Homo sapiens: one gene and its partner. The protein of the gene in region 1 purifies or fractionates together with the protein of each later gene. This does not show direct contact. Each region holds a gene or a part of one and is shown in the gene's direction. Other genes may lie near its edges.

Region 1 (2,585 bases):
AAGAGAATTCATACTGGAGAGAAACCATACAAATGTAAGGTTTGTGATACAGCTTTCACGTGTAATTCACAGCTGGCACGACATAGAAGAATTCACACTGGAGAGAAAACTTACAAGTGTAATGAGTGTCGCAAGACCTTCAGCCGCAGGTCATCCCTTCTATGCCATCGTAGACTTCATAGTGGTGAAAAACCTTACAAGTGTAATCAGTGTGGCAATACCTTCCGTCACCGGGCATCCCTTGTATACCATCGTAGACTTCACACTCTAGAGAAATCTTACAAATGTACGGTTTGTAACAAGGTTTTCATGCGTAATTCAGTCCTGGCTGTACATACTAGAATTCACACTGCAAAGAAACCTTACAAGTGTAATGAATGTGGGAAAGCTTTTAATCAACAATCACATCTTTCACGTCATCGTAGACTTCATACTGGAGAGAAACCTTACAAATGTGAAGCATGTGACAAAGTTTTTGGTCAGAAATCAGCTCTTGAGTCACATAAGAGAATTCATACTGGAGAGAAACCATACAGATGTCAGGTTTGTGACACAGCTTTCACGTGGAATTCACAGCTGGCACGACATACAAGAATTCACACTGGAGAAAAAACTTACAAGTGTAATGAGTGTGGGAAGACCTTCAGTTACAAGTCATCACTTGTATGGCATCGTAGACTTCATGGTGGAGAGAAATCTTACAAATGTAAGGTTTGTGACAAGGCTTTCGTGTGTCGTTCCTATGTGGCAAAACATACTAGAATTCACAGTGGAATGAAACCTTACAAGTGTAATGAGTGCAGCAAGACCTTCAGTAACAGGTCATCCCTTGTATGCCATCGTAGAATTCATAGTGGTGAGAAACCTTACAAGTGTAGTGAGTGCAGCAAGACGTTCAGTCAGAAGGCAACCCTTCTATGCCATCGTAGACTTCATAGTGGTGAGAAACCTTACAAGTGTAACGACTGTGGCAATACCTTCCGTCACTGGTCATCCCTTGTATACCATCGTAGACTTCATACTGGAGAGAAATCTTACAAATGTACGGTTTGTGACAAGGCTTTCGTGCGTAATTCATACCTGGCAAGACATATTAGAATTCACACTGCAGAGAAACCTTACAAGTGTAATGAATGTGGAAAGGCTTTTAATGAACAATCACACCTTTCACGTCATCATAGAATTCATACTGGAGAGAAACCTTACAAATGTGAAGCATGTGACAAAGTTTTCAGTCGCAAATCACACCTTAAAAGACATAGGATAATTCATACTGGAGAGAAACCTTACAAGTGTAATGAGTGTGGCAAAGCCTTTAGTGACCGGTCAACACTTATTCACCATCAGGCAATTCATGGTATAGGGAAATTTGATTAATATAATGATTGTCACAAAGTCTTCAGTAACACTACAACAATTGCAAATCATTGGAGAATCCATGATGAAGAGAAATCTTCTGAGTGTAATAAATGTGGCATGTTTTTCAGACATTGTTCATACATTGCAGTTCATTGGCAACCTCATACTGGAGAGAAACCTTACAAATGTCATGATTGAGGCAAGGTCTTCAGTCAAGCTTCATCCTATGCAAAACAGGAGAATTCATACAGGAGAGAAACCTCACAAGTGTGATGATTGTGGCAAAGCCTTTACTTCACATTCACACCTCGTTGGACATCAGAGAATCCATACTGGACAGAAATCTTGCAAATGTCATCAGTGTGGCAAGGTCTTCAGTCCGAGGTCACTCCTTGCAGAACATGAGAAAATTCATTTTTGAGATAACTGTTCCCAATGCAGTGAGTATAGCAAACCATCAAGCATTAATTGACATTGGAGTCAATTCAGCATTGACTTGAGTTTGTGTTGACTTAACATTGAGTTCAAGCCTTAATTGACATTCAAGTGTTTATGTTAAGAGGATGGGGCCAGGTGTGGTGGCTCAGGCCTGTAATCCCAGCACGTTGGAAGACCAAGGCACATAGGTCACTTGAGGTCAGAAGTTTGAAACCACCATGGCCAACAGATGTCGGCCACTTTCGCCATCCTGTTTTTTGTTTCTTATTTTCTTATTTATTTATTTATTTATTTTGAGATGGAGTGTCACTCTTGTTGCCCAGCCTAGAGTGCAATGATGTGATCTCAGCTCACCACAACCTCCGCCTCCCGGGTTCAAGCGATTCCTCTGCCTCAGCCTCCCTAGTTGCTGGGATTACAGGCATGTGCCACCACACCCGGCTAATTTTTTGTATTTGTAGTAGAGACGGGGTTTCTCCATATTAGGCTGGTCTTGAACTCCCAACCTCAGGTGATCTGCCCACCTTGGCATCCCAAAGTCCTGGGATTACAGGCATGAGCCACCGTACCCGGTCTTGTTTCTTATTTTCTATTTTTTATTTTTTTGAGAGGCAGGAGAATGGCGGGTGAACCCAGGAGGTGGAGCTTGCAGTAAGCCCAGATAGCACCATTGCAACTCCAGCCTGGGAGACAGAGTGAGACTCCGTCTATTAAAAAAAAAAATTATAAATAAAAAAATGTATTTTAACCAGTTAGTCTGGTTTTCAGTTTCCTTTCCTTATGTCATT
Region 2 (2,373 bases), on another chromosome or scaffold:
GGGAGGCTGAGGCAGAAGAATTGCTTGAACCCAGGAGGCTGAGGTTGCAGTGAGCTGAGATTGTGCCACTGCACTCCAGCCTGGGCAACAGAAAGACTCTGTCTCAAACAAACAAACAAAAAAGAACCTGGGGGGCCCAGGTTTGTATCCATTTCTGTCCAACTCTGAAGTTCCCACTCTTTGTCCTACAGCTGACAGCTTCCCCAAGAGAGTAAATGGAACAAACCAACACTTAAAAATAGCTCTCTCCCCTCATTGCAAAATCCACTCATGTCTTAATAGACATGAGAAAATTTGGAAGACAGAGAAAATATGAAGAAATTTAAAAGTACCCACAGTCATACTATCCCAAAATAACCATGGTTAATATTCTGATGTGTGTTATTTCAGCTTTTTTTTTTCTTTTTGAGACGGAGTCTTGCTGTCTCCAGGCTGGAGTACAGTGGCGCCATCTCAGCTCACTGCAACCTCCAGCTCCCAGGTTCAAGCAATTCTCCTGCCTCAGCCTCCAGAGTAGCTGGGATTACAGGCGCGTGCCACCACTCTCAGCTAATTTTTTATATTTTTAGTAGAGACGGGGTTTCACTCTGTTGGCCAGGATGGTCTCGATCTCCTGACCTCGTGATCCGTCCGTGTCGGCCTCCCAAAGTGCTGGGATTACAGGCGTGAGCCACCACACCTGGCTTATTCCAGCTTTTTAAAATGTTATTTATTTATTTATTTATTTTTCTGAAAACACTATGGTGATGGATCCAGCTTATTTTAAAAAGCTTTGTTTCCAAAAACAAAAGCTGGCCTCACCGTGTCCACACTGGTTTTTGCTTGCTTCTGTTGTGAACTGTCTCCTACCTGTGTCAGTAAATAATTTTCCACGAGATTTTACAACTGCCTACTGGTCCATGATACGTGTCATCATTGACTTAGCTGGCTCCCTGTTCCTGGGTGTTACGGCTGTTTTTGTTTTCATTGTTATAAATAGGGCAGCGAAGAGTATTTTTCTGCACATCTCTATTTCCCCTGGAAAATTCTATAAGTAGTACCCCTGGGTCACAGGGTCACAGTTAGCAGGTACAGCCAGAAAGCCTTCTTGAGGGATGTGCCCCCTACCAGCAGAGCATGAGGGGGGCACATGGATTGAAGTTTGTCATGTAGCAATATCAACCTGGTCCCATTGAATGGCTAAAACTCTCTGCAGCCAGTCCCAGTTGGCCCCCAGGGATGGGGCTGCCCAGCCCCAGTAACTGTGAGCAGGACTCTGTGTGCCCATGCAAGCTGGGAGTACAGCAGGCACCCTTTGCCTGCTGGCGTGGCACCCCCACCAGCCCCCCTGCTCAGCAACCACCCTGGCTTGTGACCCTTCATACTACTGGAGTTTCCAAGAATGGCATTTGTCCCAGAGGGTGGTTGTCACCAAGCACTGTGAATGAACAACAGAAATTGCTTGGGTCGTGAGTATGGGCCATTGGACACAGCCTTTGAGTGGGCAGGCAGGCATCCCCAGTCCAGTGCCAGCAGGGCAGCCAGGAGCCCCAGTTCAGTGGCTGGTGCCAGGCCTGTGGGCCAGCTCTGGGCTGACACAGCTGGTCTACTGTCATATCTCTAATTTGATCCCATCCCTCATCCCACGCTATCTGTGGCCTGGTGTCATCCTATGAGCGAATGGAGGACCAGCATCCCTGACCCTGGGATACTGGCAGTGATGGGGACAGGTGAATGACCCATGGGACTTTGAACTTTCCCTTGTAGGCAGTGGGTGGTGCCTTGCTGGGTGCCATGCATAGCAGGAATGGCCAAGAAGTCTAGGGAGGACTTGACCCTGGCCACACTACATAGCCTTTGGCCAGTCATTTTGTGGTTTCCATTTTCCTGTCTATGAAATGAGCCACTGAGGACTTTGGGGCCCGTGAGACAGATGCTGAGGATCTTGCTGGCCAAGCTGTAGGGCTGGGACCCTCAAGGGGTCTGTGAAAGGGCTGGGGCCACTGGGCTGGGGGTCGATCAGCTGGAGTGATGGAGGGAGTTGGGCTTTCTGGGCTCTCTGGGGAAGCAGGTGCTGGGGCGCATGGGATCATAGGTGGCACAACTGGGTGGGCCTGCGGGAAGCAGGAAGTGAAGGTGCCTCCCTCCCTCACCTCTCCTGCTGTAGGTTGGCTTCCTGAAGATCCTGCACAGGTATGAGATTACCTTCACTCTGCCCCCAGTGCACAGGCTGAGCAAGGATGTCCGCGAGGCACCTGTCCCCAGCCTGCACCTCAAGCTCCTCAGCGTGGTGCCCGTCCCTGAAGGTGCGTCCCCTCCTCCAGCAGGGCCTGGATGGGTGTGGGAGTGAGAACATGGGGTGCTCCCTTACTTCCAACTAGGGTGGATGGGCAG

Evidence for each region. Proteins that work in one complex are often made in the same cells at the same time.
Region 2: the proteins of ZNF808 (region 1) and ADISSP fractionate together in Homo sapiens (co-fractionation; one large-scale study listed by BioGRID). This does not show direct contact.

The regions. Positions count from the first base shown.
Region 1 is NC_000019.10:52,554,252-52,556,836, forward strand, and holds the end of ZNF808 (zinc finger protein 808), read left to right. Parts: coding exon 1-1,377; 3' UTR 1,378-2,085; downstream 2,086-2,585.
Region 2 is NC_000020.11:3,755,381-3,757,753, reverse strand, and holds part of ADISSP (adipose-secreted signaling protein), read left to right. Parts: intron 1-2,146; coding exon 2,147-2,285; intron 2,286-2,373. UniProt on the Homo sapiens protein: Adipocyte-secreted protein (adipokine) that acts as a key regulator for white adipose tissue (WAT) thermogenesis and glucose homeostasis at least in part through activation of protein kinase A (PKA).